Homo sapiens: one gene and its partners. The protein of the gene in region 2 interacts with the protein of the main gene of each other region in a biochemical or structural test. Each region holds a gene or a part of one and is shown on either strand. Other genes may lie near its edges.

Evidence for each region.
Region 1: the proteins of UBXN6 (region 2) and DERL1 form a complex in vitro, tested with the Homo sapiens proteins (one study listed by BioGRID).
Region 3: the proteins of UBXN6 (region 2) and UFD1 form a complex in vitro, tested with the Homo sapiens proteins (one study listed by BioGRID).

Annotation. Positions count from the first base shown.
Region 1 is NC_000008.11:123,011,536-123,018,397, reverse strand, and holds the end of DERL1 (derlin-1), read left to right. Parts: intron 1-2,812; coding exon 2,813-2,951; 3' UTR 2,952-5,228; downstream 5,229-6,862. UniProt on the Homo sapiens protein: Functional component of endoplasmic reticulum-associated degradation (ERAD) for misfolded lumenal proteins. Forms homotetramers which encircle a large channel traversing the endoplasmic reticulum (ER) membrane.
Region 2 is NC_000019.10:4,443,739-4,448,394, reverse strand, and holds the end of UBXN6 (UBX domain-containing protein 6), read left to right. Parts: coding exon 1-77; exon of another isoform or gene 78-769; coding exon 770-845; exon of another isoform or gene 846-1,207; coding exon of another isoform or gene 1,208-1,290; exon of another isoform or gene 1,291-1,474; coding exon 1,475-1,559; exon of another isoform or gene 1,560-1,675; coding exon 1,676-1,895; exon of another isoform or gene 1,896-1,981; coding exon 1,982-2,112; exon of another isoform or gene 2,113-2,197; coding exon 2,198-2,346; exon of another isoform or gene 2,347-2,771; coding exon 2,772-2,897; 3' UTR 2,898-3,389; downstream 3,390-4,656. UniProt on the Homo sapiens protein: May negatively regulate the ATPase activity of VCP, an ATP-driven segregase that associates with different cofactors to control a wide variety of cellular processes.
Region 3 is NC_000022.11:19,454,060-19,462,288, forward strand, and holds part of UFD1 (ubiquitin recognition factor in ER-associated degradation protein 1), read right to left. Parts: intron 4,081-8,229; coding exon 4,012-4,080; intron 2,860-4,011; coding exon 2,794-2,859; intron 2,576-2,793; coding exon 2,528-2,575; intron 1,710-2,527; coding exon 1,621-1,709; intron 772-1,620; coding exon 690-771; intron 1-689. UniProt on the Homo sapiens protein: Essential component of the ubiquitin-dependent proteolytic pathway which degrades ubiquitin fusion proteins.

The DNA.
Region 1 (6,862 bases), on a different chromosome or scaffold from region 2:
GGGGTAGGAGAGCAGGATTTTGACGATCTGAGAGGAGACGCGCACACACCCAGAAGCATGTAATAGTCGTGTGACCGTTCTGTCAGTGAGGCAAAAGGCTGTCGAAGAACGGGCCAGTTAAATCACCATCTGGGTGTCACAGCCTGCCTGACAATCATGCCTAATCTCATATCAGGGATATGCAGTAATAGCTTGCATTTGAAAGCTTTAAAAAAACAAACAAACCAAACCCTTCCACATCTTGCTAATTTTAATGTTTTGCAGTTCTGTCATTCCTCTAAGGGATCAGTGAGGGCAGTAAAACTTGAGCAGGCCTCCTCTTTCTCCCCTTCCTTTTATAGGGTAGGGGTATGTTTTTCAAAGACTTTTCAAATTGTGAACTGTAATATACAGAGATATACCATATTGGTGGTTGTGGTGTGTGTGTTTTTCTTTAAGAGAATAAAAAGAAACTTGTTTCTCTTCTGAGCCTTGAATTGCCTTCAGGCTAAAAAAACAAATGACCAATCTGGTTTCTAATTATCAAAGGACATAATAACAGCAGGTTTGGCTTTCTGATCTAGGTTTATCAAGTAGGATGGCAGATGCATCAATTAAAAAAAGCTTGGTGCTTTTGGGGGGCAGCCAACAGTTACTTTACTTTAAATGGCCATATTCTAACTTAACGGCTTGTAGCTACTTCTCAGTTGTGGGCAACACAGGATACAAGATTCTAGTGGCAAAATCAGCGAGCCCTGGAGCCTGCCTTCCACTTGAACTTTCTCTGTTGGGGGAAGTCCTTCTGCTAAATTTTGCATAAAGATCAGATGACAAAATACAGCTCCTTGCAAAAGCAGTAACTGCTTTGAAATTACCATAAATTTTTGTTGATTATGTATAATTGGGTATCTTTTTATACTAATTATTTGCATTTAATTTCACTATCTACTTAAGCAGTGGAGATGGCTTCCATATTGTCTTAGAGTGAGTAGCAAAGCAAGACAGCCCTAGCATTTTCTCCAGCAAGTGTTCTATTTTATTATGTACTTTGGAGGAATATTATTGTACCAGAAGGCATGGATGTTGAGAAACCAGCACTTGGAAAATACATTTTGATTTAATGGTAAAGCTGTATTTGTTTAAAATGGAGGAGGTGAGTATAGGAAGGTATAACTGCTTTTCTAAATGGAATGCTGATACATTTGTATCACCATTTTCCATTCCATTTAGAGTAGTTATATCTTCTCTGTACACACTAAATTTTGTGTTTAAAAGGGGTTTTTGGCCAGGCGTGGTTGCTCACGTCGGTAATCCCAGCATTTTGGGAGGCCGACGGGTGGATCACGAGGTCAGGAGATCGAGACCATCCTGGCTAACATGGTGAAACCCTGGCTCCACTAAAAATACAAAAATTAGCTGGACATGGTAGCGGGCGCCTGTTGTCCCAGCTACTCGGGAGGCTGAGGCAGGAGAATTGCTTGAACCCGGGAGGTGGAGGTTGCAGTGAGCTGAGATCATGCTACTGCACTCCAGCCTGGTGACAGAGTGAGACTCCGTCTCAAAAAAAAACAAAAAAACAAAAACCCGAGTTGTTGTCTGTTTTGGGAAGAGGCATGAAGGTATCGAGTATGATGTAAACAGACTCCAGTCACTGACTGCTGTCCCTTCCCAGGCAGGATGCATGTAGTATAACAAGTAGTGCAGGGCGCAGGCTCTGGAACCAGGCTGACTAGGTTGGAATCCTGTCACTTTCGAAGCGCTTCACTCAGTGTTGGCTCAATTTTCTTGTTTATAAAACAGGAGTAATAGTAATGCCTACCTCATGGGGTTATTGTGAAGATCAGATGAATTTATAAGCAGGCAGCACCTAGTGTAAGGCAATAATCACTGAGTAAATTCACATAGTAACTGCTCTAGTATAAGGTCAAGTATAAAGCCTGTCCTCTTCAGGGTTTCTGCTGTGGACAAGTCACCTGTCATGACTTACTCTTGCTGCCAAGAAGGGTTTAAGCGGAGGTATCAGATCATGCTCTCTGCCTTCAAGCAAAATTTTAAACATTAGGATCTGCTAAGTGGAATAGGTTTAAACACATTCTCAGTTTACTAATAAAAGAGTCAAAGATGGGAAATAGTTGGAAAATACTATTGAGAGTGTAGGCTTGGGTTTAAGTTCTCTTAGCTGTTCTGTGAACTCTTAGTTTATTAATTTTAAGGTGGGAAATCATCTAACCGTCTGGGGCCCCAGCTCTCCCACCATCTGTGAGAAGGGAAGAATGTACCTGGAAGGCAGATTCTGAATAAATTTTAAAACATACCCATACTTCCAACATAGAAAGCCTTCTTCCCCTGTCTCCTTTGATGGGCTCAGCTGAGAGCCTTTTAGAAATGCTGTGCAAGGCTCAAACATGCAGGCTGTGGATTTGGCCTTTGAAAGTGAATGTATTTTGTATCCTTTGATCCAGTTTGAGCCATATTTAGATATACCAAGATGCTATCAGTCATTCTTTGGTTGCTGGGCTTGTGGGTGTAATATTTTTGTTTCCATACTGTTCTGCATGGATTACTTTTATAAGCAGAGAAAAAAACGTTCAGAGTGTGAATTTAGCTGAAATCTGAATACATTTAAGAAACATGAAAAACGAATGCCGTCTGTGGTCAGGTCATGGGGCTGAGTACAGAAAAGACAAAGTTAAATAAGACGTCCCTCGCTGCCTTCAACATGACAAGTGCCATGGGAACAGCAGGAGAGGGAGGTGTTCTCGGAGGTCAGATAACTATGTGGAAGTGACTTTGTTCTCTTCTCTCCGTTTGTGTCCCCGTCTTTCTGCACCAGGTACCGCTGGCTGCCCAGTAGGAGAGGAGGAGTATCAGGATTTGGTGTGCCCCCTGCTAGCATGAGGCGAGCTGCTGATCAGAATGGCGGAGGCGGGAGACACAACTGGGGCCAGGGCTTTCGACTTGGAGACCAGTGAAGGGGCGGCCTCGGGCAGCCGCTCCTCTCAAGCCACATTTCCTCCCAGTGCTGGGTGCACTTAACAACTGCGTTCTGGCTAACACTGTTGGACCTGACCCACACTGAATGTAGTCTTTCAGTACGAGACAAAGTTTCTTAAATCCCGAAGAAAAATATAAGTGTTCCACAAGTTTCACGATTCTCATTCAAGTCCTTACTGCTGTGAAGAACAAATACCAACTGTGCAAATTGCAAAACTGACTACATTTTTTGGTGTCTTCTCTTCTCCCCTTTCCGTCTGAATAATGGGTTTTAGCGGGTCCTAGTCTGCTGGCATTGAGCTGGGGCTGGGTCACCAAACCCTTCCCAAAAGGACCCTTATCTCTTTCTTGCACACATGCCTCTCTCCCACTTTTCCCAACCCCCACATTTGCAACTAGAAGAGGTTGCCCATAAAATTGCTCTGCCCTTGACAGGTTCTGTTATTTATTGACTTTTGCCAAGGCTTGGTCACAACAATCATATTCACGTAATTTTCCCCCTTTGGTGGCAGAACTGTAGCAATAGGGGGAGAAGACAAGCAGCGGATGAAGCGTTTTCTCAGCTTTTGGAATTGCTTCGACCTGACATCCGTTGTAACCGTTTGCCACTTCTTCAGATATTTTTATAAAAAAGTACCACTGAGTCAGTGAGGGCCACAGATTGGTATTAATGAGATACGAGGGTTGTTGCTGGGTGTTTGTTTCCTGAGCTAAGTGATCAAGACTGTAGTGGAGTTGCAGCTAACATGGGTTAGGTTTAAACCATGGGGGATGCAACCCCTTTGCGTTTCATATGTAGGCCTACTGGCTTTGTGTAGCTGGAGTAGTTGGGTTGCTTTGTGTTAGGAGGATCCAGATCATGTTGGCTACAGGGAGATGCTCTCTTTGAGAGGCTCCTGGGCATTGATTCCATTTCAATCTCATTCTGGATATGTGTTCATTGAGTAAAGGAGGAGAGACCCTCATACGCTATTTAAATGTCACTTTTTTGCCTATCCCCCGTTTTTTGGTCATGTTTCAATTAATTGTGAGGAAGGCGCAGCTCCTCTCTGCACGTAGATCATTTTTTAAAGCTAATGTAAGCACATCTAAGGGAATAACATGATTTAAGGTTGAAATGGCTTTAGAATCATTTGGGTTTGAGGGTGTGTTATTTTGAGTCATGAATGTACAAGCTCTGTGAATCAGACCAGCTTAAATACCCACACCTTTTTTTCGTAGGTGGGCTTTTCCTATCAGAGCTTGGCTCATAACCAAATAAAGTTTTTTGAAGGCCATGGCTTTTCACACAGTTATTTTATTTTATGACGTTATCTGAAAGCAGACTGTTAGGAGCAGTATTGAGTGGCTGTCACACTTTGAGGCAACTAAAAAGGCTTCAAACGTTTTGATCAGTTTCTTTTCAGGAAACATTGTGCTCTAACAGTATGACTATTCTTTCCCCCACTCTTAAACAGTGTGATGTGTGTTATCCTAGGAAATGAGAGTTGGCAAACAACTTCTCATTTTGAATAGAGTTTGTGTGTACCTCTCCATATTTAATTTATATGATAAAATAGGTGGGGAGAGTCTGAACCTTAACTGTCATGTTTTGTTGTTCATCTGTGGCCACAATAAAGTTTACTTGTAAAATTTTAGAGGCCATTACTCCAATTATGTTGCACGTACACTCATTGTACAGGCGTGGAGACTCATTGTATGTATAAGAATATTCTGACAGTGAGTGACCCGGAGTCTCTGGTGTACCCTCTTACCAGTCAGCTGCCTGCGAGCAGTCATTTTTTCCTAAAGGTTTACAAGTATTTAGAACTCTTCAGTTCAGGGCAAAATGTTCATGAAGTTATTCCTCTTAAACATGGTTAGGAAGCTGATGACGTTATTGATTTTGTCTGGATTATGTTTCTGGAATAATTTTACCAAAACAAGCTATTTGAGTTTTGACTTGACAAGGCAAAACATGACAGTGGATTCTCTTTACAAATGGAAAAAAAAAATCCTTATTTTGTATAAAGGACTTCCCTTTTTGTAAACTAATCCTTTTTATTGGTAAAAATTGTAAATTAAAATGTGCAACTTGAAGGTTGTCTGTGTTAAGTTTCCATGTCCCTGCTCTGCTGTCTCTTAGATATCACATAATTTGTGTAACCAATTATCTCTTGAAGAGCATTTAGGAAGTACCCAGTATTTTTTGCTGGATTAATTCCTGGATGCAGAATTCCTGGGTTTTCATTTTAATGAAGGAGGATGCTTGCTAACTTTGAGTGAGGAGTCATATCTGATTGTAGCATGCTTTATGGCATTTTTATAGCTTCTACCCATGGATCTGAGCCCTGGAACTTTATAAAATTAGTTTAATCCTGTTTCCTCATAAGGCACACACAGACTAGATAGCAGGTGCCATGACATTCCTGAGCCCTTTTTTTTTTTTTTCCTCGAGGGTGAACATCCCAGTCTGTATCTTGGGCCTTCGACAGGCCAACTTCACTCATCACAAGGTGAGGTGACAGGAAGCAGGTTGTATGTATGTCCCTCTTCTATTACTGGGGAAATACTGAAGCAATAGAAAAAGATCCCGCTTATTTAGAAGGACACATTGCCAGTATCATTGTGTTCTAAGCTACCTTTTGAATGACATGGATCTAATAATAGGCAATGTTGCAGTTGCCAACATCTTCGTTTATTGCCAACTCTGTTTCTGAGGTCCCTGCCCCTCTTACACTTTCAGCAGTAACTTAACACTCTGAATAACTAACCTTTGAAAGAAGTTACTCCTTTCTGGACTTTATACTGTTTTTTTCTTAGAAGGCTGGGCTGAGCAAATGGGTTTACTGGCAGTTCACTTGTTTGCCTTCCAGAGTGACTGGTGATCAGAATTGGCCAGGAATACCATGTCCTGTGTTTACTTCTTTCTTAACCCTCCCTCCCACCTTCCCTCCCTGTCCCTCCCTCTTTCTCTCCCTCTCTCCCTCTCTGTCTCTTCTTTCTTTGTTTTTTTGAGACAGGATCTCAGTCTGTCACCCAGGTTGGAGTGTAGTGGCATGATCTCGGCTCGCTGCAACCTCTGCCTCCCAGGTTCAGATGATCCTCCCACCTCAGCCTCCTGAGTAGCTGGGACCACAAGTGTGTGCCACCACACTCGGCTAATTTTTTGTATTTTTGTTCGAGATGGAGTTTCACCATGTGGCCCAGGCTGGTCTTAAACTCCTGAGCTCAGGCAAGTCACCTGCCTCGGCCTCTCAAAGTGCTGGGATTACAGGCCTGAGCCACGGTGCCCAGCCTTTCCCACGATTTATATGTGTGGTTTAAACCTAGGCTCCTTCCCGTACGGTCCCCTTATCTCACATCAACTCTGCTTGTTCCAGTAGGAACGCCGTGTTCGGGGCACACCTGGGCACTGAGCATTAATGTGCCAGGTACTTTATGAAAAAGCCTCCAATTTACGGTTTTTAAAATCTGGCTATACATAAGCATTAAACTTGAGATTTTAAAAAAATGCAGGTATCTTGGCTCATTCCCATTCTACATACTTTTGAAGTTGATTCTGACGTTCAGCTGGATTTGGGAACTTGTGTTTAAACAAACTTGTGAAATAGTATTATCCCCATTTTCCAGATGAGGAAACTTAAGCTTCAAGTCCCTTGATTAAAATCAGGCAGCGGCCAGGTACGGTGGCTCACGCCTGTAATCCCAGCTCTTTGGGAGGCTGAGGTGGGTGGACCTTCTGAGGTTGGGAGTTCGAGACCAGCCTGACCAACATGGAGAAACCCCATCTCTACTAAAAATACAAAAATTAGCTGTGCGTGGTGGCATATACCTGTAATTCCAGCTACTCGGGAGGCTGAGGCAGGAGAATGACTTGAACCCAGGAGGTGGAGGTTGCGGTGAGCCG
Region 2 (4,656 bases):
GCCGCCTCCATCATGAAGATCTACACGTTCAACAAAGACCAGGACCGGGTGAAGCTGGGTGTGGACACCATTGCCAAGTGAGCGTGTGGCCCCTTTGCCCTGCCTGGCCCCTCCAGCTCATCCCAGCACCCCTCCCACTGGGGCTGTCACCCCCTCTGGCCCCCTCATTACCTGCTGAGGTGGGTTGGGAAGGAGCATAGGCCGAGAGTGAGGCAGCTCCACCCAGAGGCCTCAGGCAAAGGGCTGGGCCTCCTTGGGCCTCAGTTTACCCGTGTGCAAAATGAAGGTGTTGAAGGAATCAGGGGTTTCCCACCCTGGCTTCCTTGGGGAACATGTGGAGGAGGCAGGGTCCCACCCCACTCCCCGGGTCTCAGGATCGGGGGCAGGCCTGGAGGTCCACGCTGCCCGCCAACGCCGAGGGAGCACCCCGCAGGAGCCCCCTGCTGGCACTGCGGCCCTTCAGCTCTGGCTCTCCACTCTTCCGGCACTGTGGCTTCCCCACCGCTGTGGTTAATTGTGCCCTTCCAGGGCTGGTGGGACGGTGAGGGGTTCCGTGGGGCTCCTGCTGGCACCAGGGGTGGGCTCCATGGGGTGTCCGAGGTGTGCCTTCCACCCGGAGATGGTCTGCTGCCCTCGCGTCACTGGGCCGCTTCTTCCCTCTGACTAGAGGCCAAGTGTGGCTGAGCTGCTGTTACCTGGAGCAGGAGGCACAGAGGGGCCGGGTGGGCAGCCTGGGCTGTGCCCCACTCACCTTCTCCACCTACCCCAGGTACCTGGACAACATCCACCTGCACCCCGAGGAGGAGAAGTACCGGAAGATCAAGCTGCAGAACAAGGTGTTTCAGGTGGGCGTGCCTTCTGGCCCCCGGGGCCCAGGCTGGGGGTGGGGGCAGCTGGCCTGCAGGAGCCGGTGGTGGCCCACACCAGGCGGTGGGCTCCCTGGAGGAGCTAGCGAGAGTTGAGCCACAAGCAGTGAAGGGTTCGGCCAGTAGAAGGTAGCAGGACAAGATGGAGAGCAAGACTTTTATGCACCGGTCACCCCAAATCAACAAATTCTGCCTCTCCTCACCTGCATCCTTTTCCTCCTCTTCAGCTGGGCTTGTTTGGGAACATGTCGACTCTGGGGAGGTTTCTCATGCAAACCAGATGTCTGGTTCTTCTGGGGGAAAGGGCAGGGACTGGGGTCCTGGGCGGTGTTAGCCTCGCATCAGGCCCCAGCAGTGTCTGGCTCCTCAGCCTCACTCTTCGTGCCTGGTTGTGACTCTTTCCTCTGTGCAGAGCTGTTGGAGACTCCACAGCCCCCACCGTAGAAAAGCAGGTTTGCATCCAGCACTGAGGCACCCCCAGGGCTGGGCCCCATCCAGGGGTCGACAGCTGCTCCCAATAGCGAGAGCCGGGCCCCTGGACTGGGTGGGGTGTGGCCAGGCCATGGAGGAAGCCAGGGGCCCCCAGTGACGCCCATCTCCACCCCCAGGAGCGCATTAACTGCCTGGAAGGGACCCACGAGTTTTTTGAGGCCATTGGGTTCCAGAAGGTGTTGCTTCCCGCCCAGGATCAGGGTAAGTGGACAGGGCCTGGCTGAGTAGGGAATGGGGACGAGGGGCCTCGGGGCAGGAGGGCCCGGCTTGGGGGTCTCTCCATTGCACAGTGACACCCATGTCCTGCCACGCTGTAGAGGACCCCGAGGAGTTCTACGTGCTGAGCGAGACCACCTTGGCCCAGCCCCAGAGCCTGGAGAGGCACAAGGAACAGCTGCTGGCTGCGGAGCCCGTGCGCGCCAAGCTGGACAGGCAGCGCCGCGTCTTCCAGCCCTCGCCCCTGGCCTCGCAGTTCGAACTGCCTGGGGACTTCTTCAACCTCACAGCAGAGGAGATCAAGCGGGAGCAGAGGCTCAGGTGGGCCTGACGTCCGCGGAGCAGAGTGGGGCGGGGCGGGGTGGAAGAACCCCGGCCAGCCCTCGTGACCTGGCCCGCGTGTGCAGGTCCGAGGCGGTGGAGCGGCTGAGCGTGCTGCGGACCAAGGCCATGCGGGAGAAGGAGGAGCAGCGGGGGCTGCGCAAGTACAACTACACGCTGCTGCGCGTGCGCCTCCCCGATGGCTGCCTCCTGCAGGGTGGGCACCAACGATGCCCGTGGAGGGCGGCTCGGGTTGGTAGGGGGCCCTGGGCCCCACCCGCTCTGACTCCCCCACTCCCCAGGCACTTTCTACGCTCGGGAGCGGCTGGGGGCGGTGTACGGGTTCGTCCGGGAGGCCCTGCAGAGCGACTGGCTGCCTTTTGAGCTGCTGGCCTCGGGAGGGCAGAAGCTGTCCGAGGACGAGAACCTGGCCTTGAACGAGTGCGGGCTGGTGAGTGTCGGCCCGCAGGAGCACCGCTGACCCGATGCCTCTGCAGGTTCTCCTGGGACCGGCACAGACACCCCCAGGAGGGAGCCTCCTTGTTCTCAGAGCAGGGGGCCTGGGCAGGTCCCTGGGTTTGAATCCTGCTTTCCCACTTACTGGCAGCAGGGCCTCGAGCAAGTTCATAACTACTCCACGCCTCAGTTTCCCCATCAAATGGGAGCGGTGACGTGCGTTAGCTAGTGCAGTAGGTTTAGGCTTAGGTCCTGGAGTCCCGGAGGGAGAGGGCAGGAGGCCTGGGTGCGAGCCACAGCCTCCACCAGCTGAGATGGCTTCCAGGCCGGGGCATCCCCGCGCCCAGGTTGCCCGCTGAGTTCCCTGCCGCGGCAAGGGCCGACTCTCGGTCTCAGAGTGACGGCCTACCCCTACCGCAGGTGCCCTCTGCCCTCCTGACCTTCTCGTGGGACATGGCTGTGCTGGAGGACATCAAGGCCGCGGGGGCCGAGCCGGACTCCATCCTGAAACCCGAGCTCCTGTCAGCCATCGAGAAGCTCTTGTGAAATAAAAGCAGGGTTGGCCTCAGCCCTGTGGGTCTGTCTCATGCTCTCCCTGTTCCTCTCCCCGCCACCCCAGGGCCTCCAAGCCACCTCTGGAAATACTTGGCTCTGCCCCATGGGCACGGGAGGGGCGCCAGCCGTGGAGCTGTGGAATTGGGCCCCGTGGCAGAGCCCCCATCCCTTGGGGGCTGTGGGGATGCGCCCAAGCCCCCGAGGGAGAGGCCTGGGGACACCAACAAATCTAAGCCCTCCCTAGCTGCTTGGTAACTGTGTCATGAAGCTGCCGGACAGACACACGTGGCATCTCCCTGGGCAGGAGAGCAGGCCTGCAGCATGGGTCCTGTTCCCGTGTGCCGTGGGTGGCAGTGGCTGCACCTGGCACTAGGGCTGCTCTGTGGATGTGGGTGACAACGGCAGGAGGGGATGCTGGCCTTCCTGCACATAGACCTGCAGTTAGTAAATCATAAGCCCAAATAAACAGGTTGTTTGAATATAGTTTCTTGGTTCTCCGTTGAAACCGTGGGACACAGGGCAGGCCCACCTGCTGAAGAGCGGATGGCTTGGGGGCTGGGTGTGGCTCCCTGTCAAGGTGGGACCATGTGGATACCTGTTCTCAGGCCAGCACCTGGCCACAAGTGCCCGATGAGCCACCCACCTGGGGAGGAAGTCCCGTGCGCTAGGGGAGGCTGTGCTGTGCCCACAAAGGCCCAGTCCCTGCAGGGGAGGCGAGTGCTGTCACAGGCCTGGCTTCCCTGTGGCCAGAGGGACAGGGTGTCCTGAGACGGCCACATCCTATTCCTGGAACCTGCAGATGCGCAACTTCACCTGGCAAGAGGGGCTTGGGTATGATGAAAGGTCTTGAGCTGGGAGATGATCCTGGGTGGTCCGGGACCCAGTGTCCTCACAAGAGGTGGCAGGAGGGTGAATCAGAGAGAGACTGGAAGAGGCTGCGCATGGCTGTGAAGGTGGAGGAAGGGACCCCGAGCTGAGGGATGCAGCGCCTCCGAGCACTGGGAAACTCTCCAGGAGGGCCTGGTCCTGCCCACAGCTTGATGTTAGCCTGGCGGGGCATGTGTGCACTCTGACCCCCAAGCTGTGAGATGGTGACTTGCTTTAAGCCACCAGGTTTGTGGTACAGCAGCCCCAGGAGACACAGGGACTCTGCCCTGCAGTGTGGAAGGCATGTGTGCCCCGGCCCCACTGCTGACTTGGGGATGCAGGTCTGCACCTGGGGGAGGTGCCCGGGGCCTATGCTCGTGCCCCTGACCTTGCATTGGTCCCTCCCTCGCCCCCGGCACTGCCCCAGCTGGTGTGGGCACCCGGCCTGTTGAGAATGGAGGCTGTCACTCCAGTCCTGCGTCCTGCAGGCCCCAGGACCTGATTCCGGGTTGTCGGGAGCCCCTGTAAAGCTCATCAAAGGTGTGGCACAGGGGCAGCCTCTGCTTCAGGCACAGCTGAATCCTGCTTCCCAGCAGGAAGGCCTGGCCCGGGCGCCCTGCCGTCCCTGACTGGGTGGATGGAGGTAGCTGACACTTTTCCCACATAGGGTTCCCTGAAGGGAAGCTTAGGACTTCAGGTGGGGTGTGGCTGGGAAGAGCAGGACTGGCGAGCGTGACCCTCCCCGTGGCTGCGTGTGCTCTGAGCTGCTCAGTACCACAGCGGCTGTCGCCTGTCCTCCCTCGGACAGTGTGGATAAAGCCCACTCAACCTGGGGCGGGGAGGAGGTCACCTTCTAGCTCCAGCACTCGCAAAAGATGCACCT
Region 3 (8,229 bases), on a different chromosome or scaffold from region 2:
CAGCTAGAAGGTGCTGCCTATATTTGAAGTTCAAGGTCTCTGTTGGAAGACGAAGCCCACCCAGGGCACACAGTTCTGTGATAACAGAGCCTGGAGTCGGCTCTAGAGCAAGACAGAGCTCCTGACCCCCATGCTGCAAGTCTTCTGTTTCATACACCCTACACCAGCTCTACAGAAAAAAACAGGACACCAGGGAGCAGAGGGACCCTAGGAAAGGGAAAACATGACAGACACCCTCATGTGGTTTGGCTGCGTCCCCACCCAAATCTCATCTTGAATTACCACGTGTTGTGGGAGGGACCAGGTGGGAGGTAACTGAGTCGGTGGGAGGTAACTGAGTCATGAGGGCGGGTCTTTTCCGTGCTGTTATCATGATAGTGAATAAGTCTCATGAGATCTGATGGTTTTATAAGTAGGTGTTTCCCTGCACCAGCTTTTTCTCTGCCTGCTACCATCCATGTAAGATGTGACTTGCCCCCTGCCATGATTGTGAGGCCTCCCCAGCCATGTGAACTGTAAGTCCATTAAACCTCTTTCTTTTGTAAATTGCCCAGTCTCGGGTACATCTTTACCAGCAGCTTGGAAACAGACTAATGCACACCCCTACTCAGAATGCCAAGAACTTCAGTCATCACTAGCAAATAAATCTCCTCATTACCAACCAAGGAAATACAAGGAAATACACTCACCTCTTCAACCTTTTTGACAAGGGGACGTGAATTTCTGATGAAAGTTATCTTACCAAGTTTAAATTCATAATTGGGAATTCCTCTGTAAGAAGAGACAGAGACAGAGAAATGTTATTTCCAGGAAAAAAGGACTAAAATTCATTTTTGACAGTCAAGAGGAACGCAGAAAAGATGCTGCTGCACCCCACCTGGGCCCTTTGGTGCTTCCTGGCATCCTCCCAGGAGGGAAGCAGAAAGTAACTGACTTCTTGGTTTGGTATCAATATTGGGTATAGGGCCAGGGGCTTTAGGCTCTGTACCTGTCTATGGAGAGGGGTCATCTGAAGGATTGGGAAGCCCTCACTGTCACTGTCCTGAGCTTCACAGAACCCCCTGAGGTGGCTAGACTCTCACTCCAGTATTCTGATTTCACACACACAACAGACAACTGACACACCTCAGCCCTGCCCCTGCCATCATGGCCACCAGAGGAAGGGTCTGCTGTGGGTCCCCGGACCCAGCAACAGAAGCACATCTGAGGTAGCTCCTCAGGGAACTTTCAGGGGAACTGAGATAATGTGACCTGATTAATAATTCCAAGTCACAAAACAGGAAAATAGGCAGATCACCAAATAGGGACCAGAAAGGTTTTGAGTAAGAGACAGATCTAATCAGACTCGCATCTTAGGAAAGCCAGTGGGGGCAAGAAGAGGCTGAATTGGGGGTATGGAGAGGTATGGAGAGAGGCTGGACCACAGTGGTACTGGGGGTGGCACTGTGGAAGGAGGGGCATGTTGTGCTCCACCCCACCAAGGAGAGCAGCTAAGGGTTTTAGTCCCTTGGGAGACTACTGACCCAGGCTTTGTCTCCAGAACTGGGGTGAGGCTGCCCGACCCCAGCGGGCTGGCACAGATCCTCCTCCTGTCCTGGAGGAGAGCCAGGACAGACCTACCTTTTAATATCTCCAGGCTTGATTGGGGAGGGGCTGGGCTCTACCCCTTTCTTCTTTCCATCCAGTCTATTGCCAGATCCAGAGAAAGCCTAGACAGGAAGTAGGTGAGTCATATAATAAGCCCAAGTGTGAGGACGATATGTCCTTTGCTTGGAGATCACTGCAGGGATGTGAGCTGGGGGTGCTGTGCAGACCCCTTCAGGACTGAAGCCCTGACTCCTCAACTGCTGGGGTGCTGGCAGCTAAGAACTCTGCCCAGTTCCTCAGGGGGTGGCCATGAGCTGAAGACAGCCACTTGGCCAAGGGCAGCCAGCAGTCAGTGTTGGGTTAAAAGACCTGATCCCTGCCTCTGCAGGGCCACCCAGTTCAAGCTCTATGGGTGGGCTAAGGCTACTGTTGTGACTGCCCCATAGCTCAGCTTCCCATCATTCTGCCCTCTCTGCTGCTTCCTGGCACCTCCTGCCACCTCAGTGCCCACACATGAACCACCTCCACCTGTTTCCCATGGAGCCTTGCCAGTAGTTATGCTAAGGGTCATGTTTGCAACCTACATGGTACAGGCAAAGAAAAAAGGAAACATGATTTACAAGAGAGAGAAAGCAAATGTGGTAACTTTTGGTGAACCTAAGGGAACAGTATATGTCTACTGTACTATTTAAACTCTTCGGTAGGTTAGAAATTCTTAAAAATCTGGGCTGCCTTATGGGGCTGTTGGGAAGATTCCAGGAGAGAGTGGATACAAAAGGGTTTGGTAACTGAGCGAGTGGCAGATTTGCATATGCACAGGTACCCAGAGGCCTAACCCCTGCTGATGTCCATCGAGCATCATGGAGAACACCTTGAGTGAGTGCTCTAATTTCAAGGAGCAGAGGGCACAGCAATATAAGTCAAGTGGTCTGGTACTCACGCGGAAGCCCAGCTCTCCAGCATAGCCACTGTGGTCGGCTTCACCTTCCTGACAGGGAAAAAGAAAAACAGGTGAGCTCCTCAGCGGGGACACCCAGCTTCCCTCTCACCCCCACCCCCGGCTAGGATGTCCCCCGGAAGCATGGCTGGAAGGGACGCAGAGGATATGACTACACCAACACTAGCAGAGGCCACCCACGAGCCACTGCCAGGAACTCAAAAGCAGCATGCAGCAGGACAGCAAAGGACACTGAGGATAACACTTACTGTCGACTCCTCATGCTGGACTTGTCTTTCGGGTTCTTTGTAGCCCAGGGGAGCATCAAAGTCCACCTGTGTTTCCAGGATTTTAAAAGTAAAATATTGAGACATGACCACCCTTGGCTTCCTTTTTTGTTTTTAATTGAGACAACTGTAGATTCACATGCAGTTTTAAGAAATAATACAAAAGATGCCTTGTACACTTGCCCAGTTTTCCCAACGGTAGCATCTTACAAAATTACAGTAAAGTATTGCTGCCAGGATATCAACACTGGCACAACCCACTGCTCTTATTCAGATTTCCCCAGTTTTACATGTTTTTGTTCATGGGTATCTTTAGTTCTACACAATGTAATCACTGTGTGGGGCATGTATCCACCACAGTTGAGATGTAGAACAGTTTCACCACCACTAGGACTGCCCATGTTGTCTTTTTATAACCATACCCAGCTGTCTCCCAGCCCCCTCCACCAGTCCTAAGCCCTGGCAACCACTGGTCTGTCTTCCATTTCGAAAGTTCTGTCACTTTGAGGATGTTATATAACGAAGTAACTTTTTGGGATTGGCTTTTTTTGCTCAGCAGTATTCCCTAGTAATACAACCAGGATGCTGTGTGCATCAGCACTTCATTCCTACTCAGAAGGTTCAGTACGCTTCCTTAGCTCTTAAGCATATTCACTCCTCGGCCAGGCGCGGTGGCCCACACCTGTAATCTCAGCACTTTGGGAGGCCGAGGCGGGTGGATTACCTGAGGTCAGGAGTTTGAGACCAGCTTGGCCAACATGGTAAAACCCTGTCTCTACCAAAATACAAAACTAGCCGGGCCTGGTGGCACATGCCTGTAATCCCAGCTACTCGGGAGGCTGAGGCAGGAGAATCGCTTGAACCTGGGAGGTGGAGGTTGTAGTGAGCCAAGATCGCACCACTGCACTCCAGCCTGGGCAACAGGAGTGAAACTAAGTCTCAAAAAAAAAAAGAATATTCACTCCTCAACGGGTCAGAGCTAACCATGGCAGCACTGGCAGCAAACTCTGTTGCCCCAACTGGCCCTGAGATAGATCACAAGGTCACAGTCTCCTCATGATGTTCTGACAGCATCTTCCTCCTCTTTACCCAGAGTCCCAGGGGCTGTTTGATGCCCTCCTGACACCCTGGCCTGCAGTGGTCACCAACTGCCCATCCTCCCAGGGCCCAGGCTCACTGTAACTGGACAGAGCCACTCACGTTCATGTCACACTCAATGATGGACACTGCCTTGTCGGGTTTGGTCTCCATCACACGCAGTTCGTAGATCTGTGGGGCAAACACAGAAATCAGTTGGATGGTTTCCTGGCAGCACTGGAGCTGTCGCTGTCCATGTTACTGTGGCTCTACTGGCTCCTGCGAATGACACAGCATTCATGCCCATGACACAACCTACAGCTGCACTTCTTGCTGTGACAACACTGCCATAAGGGACAGGCTGCCCTGTGCCCATCGCTGAAGAGATGCTGTTCCCCAGATATGGTTCAAATTAGACAAGGTAGTTATACAGCTAACTGCAAAAGACACTAACAACCTTTAACCTGGAAAGTTCACTTCTGGAACTTTACTATTTATTTTATTTATTTATTTTTAGACAGAATCTCGCTCTATCGCCCAGGCTGGAGTGCAGTGGTGCGATCTTGGCTCACTGCAACCTCCGCCTCCAGGGTTCAAGCACTTCTCCTGCCTCAGCCTCCCTAGTAGCTGGGACTATAGGCATGTGCCACTACACCTGGCTAATTTTTGTATTGTTGTAGAGATGGGGTTTCACCATGTTGGCCAGGCTGGTCTCGAACTCCTGACCTCAGGTGATCCGCCCACCTCGGCCACACAAAGAACTGGGATTACAGACATAAGCCACCGCACTCGGCCTTCGAAATTTATTCTAAGTAAATAACTAGCTATACCCAATGAGAAAATTCTAAGAATGCTCATACCAACGTCACTAATACCACTGTACAGATGCTCCTTGACTTATGATGGAACCAAGTCCCATAAACTTATAAGTTAAAAATGTATTAATATTCCTAACCTACCAAACATCATAGTGCAGCCTGCCTTAACCATTCTCAGAACACATACATTAGCCTACAGTTGGGCAAAATCATCTACTATAAAGCTTATTTTATAATAAAATGTTGAATAACTCATGTAATTTATTGAATACTGTACTGAAGATCAAAAACAGAATGGTTGTATAGGTATTCAAAGTATGGTTTTTACTGAATGTGTATCATGTTTGCATCATAATAAAGTTGAAAAATTCTAGGTAGAACCATGGTCAGGGACTGTCTGTATACTCAAAATGCAGCTGAATTATATTTCTTCATATGTAAATTTACAGTTATACAATGGTATGCTACGCAGCCAACAGGAAAATAATTGTAAAACCAGTCATGTTGCTTGTGTCTAAGATGACCTCACCTATGTAAAAAAGGCACATAAAAAATGTCCAGAAGCAGGGCCGTGCGTGGTGGCTCACGCCTGTAATCCCAGCACTTTGGGAGGCCGAGGAGGGCAGATCACGAGGTCAGGCAAATGAGACCATCCTTGCTAACATGGTGAAGACCCGTCTCTACTAAAAAATACAAAAAATTAGCTGGGAGTGGTGGCAGGTGCCTGTAGTCCCAGCTATTCGGGAGGCTGAGGCAGGAGAATGGTGTGAACCCAGGAGGTGGAGCTTGCAGTAAGCTGAGATCGGGCCACTGCACTCCAGCCTGGGCAACAGAGCGAGACTCTGTGTCAAAAACAAACAAACAAACAAGCAAACAAACAAACTCCAGAAGCATAGAAATTAAAAGTGGCCCTATCTACTTTTTCCTGCATCATTTCAGGTTCTTTGCTTTTATCTAAAGTCTGTCTTGCTTTTTTTTTTTTTTTTTTTTCGAGATGGAGGCTCGCTCTGGCACCCAAGCTGGAGTGCAATGGTATGGTCTTGGCTCACTGCAACCTCCGCCTCCCGGGTTCCAGCGATTCTCTTGCCTCAGCCTCCCAAGTAACTGGGACTACAGGTGCGTGCCACCACACCCAGCTAATTTTTGTGTTTTTAGTAGAGATGGTGTTTCACTATGTTGGCCAGGCTGGTCTTGAACTCCTGACGTTGTGATCCACCCGCCTCAGCCTCCCAAAGTGCTGGGATTACAGGCATGGGCCACCATGCCCGGCCAGTATGTCTTGCTTTTACAACCATTTTAAAAAGTCTGGATAGTCCCACCATTTAAAAAAAAAACCTAAGCAGGGCCAAATCTACTTTTAAAAGTGTCATAATTATTGAATAGATAAGGAATAAAAAAAGGATCTGTCATTGTGTGGATATACTACCACTTATCCACTGAGCATCCGGCCTGTTTCCAATCATTTTGCTGTGTTAATGACACTACTATAAACATTCAAACATGTCTCCTAGGGCTTGGCTCATGCTTCTCTACCGTTTTCATGTTTTCAAAAGGCCACAAATAATCAGTGGGTCATAAAACCAACAGGGCTGCAAGCAGAACTGAAAAGGAAAGAATTGGAAGACAGTACCCTAGAAGTACTATTGCATTTAGTAAGGATAAATATTCCTGTGACATTTTCCATTTACTTTTATGTATTGGCATAATATTAAATACTTTTTTTTTAAACTATGGGACCAATTTTCTAGGTTGGTGCTCCTCAAACTACCTGGGAAGACCTAGTTTTTAAAAATGTGCAGTCTGCTGGACTGCCATGTGGTCCTCCTGCACAGAAGCAAGACACAACACACACCAGACGCCCAGAGCTCACCAAGACAAGTACTGGTTCTGTGGCCATGTGTGTGGAGGTTATGACAATGCCAAATTACTATACGTTTCTAAACATTCACTTTTGATTCCTGCTTCCTCGAGGCCCTGGCAACCACCATTCTTTTTTTTTTTTTTTTTCCCTTGAGGCAGGGTCTTGCTCAGTCCCCCAGGCTGGAGTGCAGTGCCTTGACCCTGGCTCACTGCAGACTCAACTGATCCTCCCGCCTCAGCCTCCTGAATAGCTGTAACTAGGCACATGCCACTACGCCCAGCTAATTTTAAAATTTTTTCATTAATTTTTTGTAGTGACAGGATCACACTATGTTACCCAGGCTACTCTCAAACTCCTGGGCTCAAACAATCCTCCAACCTTGGCCTCCCAAAGTGCTGGGATGCCAGGTGTGAACCACGGTGTCCAGGTGATTCTACTTTCTGTCTCCCATGAGTTTGACTACTCTAAGTACTCATGTAAGCGGAATGTAGTATTTGTCTGTCTGCATCTGGTTTATTTCACTGAGCAGAATGTTCATCCATGTGGTAGCATGTGTCAGAATTCCCTTCCTTTTTAATGTTGAATAATATTACATTGTATGTGTGTACCACATATTATTTACCCATTCATCTGCAATTTATTTTTGACTATGGTATGAGTTAGGAACTCAATTTGTTTTTTCATCTTAGGAATAGTCAATATCCCAGATTCCGCAACCCCAGTATCTCCTTTGCCTGGTGACATCAATGCTGCCTCAGTGGTGGACCAAGATTCTTTGTATATAAAGCTTTCTTCCACTGGCCTACTTGTCTACTCCAGAACCAATGCCATATGGTGTCTTAACTACTGGAGCTTTATTACACTCAGCTGCCGTATAGAATCTTCCTTATATATGACCAGATTCTTTTGTCAATATTTTATCTACAATCTATGTATCTGTATCAAGTGACAATGATCTGTAGTTTACCTTTCTCCTATCCTTGTGTGGTTTTGGTGATCAAGGTTATGCCGACCTCAGAGAATGAGTTGGGGGATATGTTCTTTCTCTATTTTTAGAATATCTAAGAGCAATTTATTGCTTGAGTGTGAGGAAGAACTTGCATATATAACCATCTGGGCCTGTGTTTCCTGGATTAAGATTTTTCTGATTGAATTACTTGACTGGCTATACAATTATTTAGGCTGTTTGTTTTTTTTTTTCTTTAGTCAAACTTCAATTACACTTTTCTCTAGGAAATAATTTATCAATGTCAAATAAGTTGGCTCATTTCTTAGTATAAAATTTTTCACAGTTTTATCTTTCAAGATATTTGCTTTATCTAATTCATTTTATTTGTTTTTAAACATTCAATATGCATGTAGACTTTTCAGGGTTTGCTTTTTTTTTGTTTGAGGCAAGGTCTTGCTTTATCACCTAGGCTAGAGTGCAGTGGCACGGTCACTGTTCACTGCAACTTCTGCCTCCCGGACTCAAGTGATCCTCCCACTTCAGCCTCCCAGGTAGCTGGGACTACAGGTGCATGCCACCATGCCCAGCTAATTTTTGTATTTTTTGTCGAGATGGGGTTTTGCCATGTTGCCCAGTCTGGTCTCAAACTCCTGGACTTAAGTGATCCACCCACCTCAGCCTCCCAAATTGCTGGGATTACAGGTGTGAGCTAC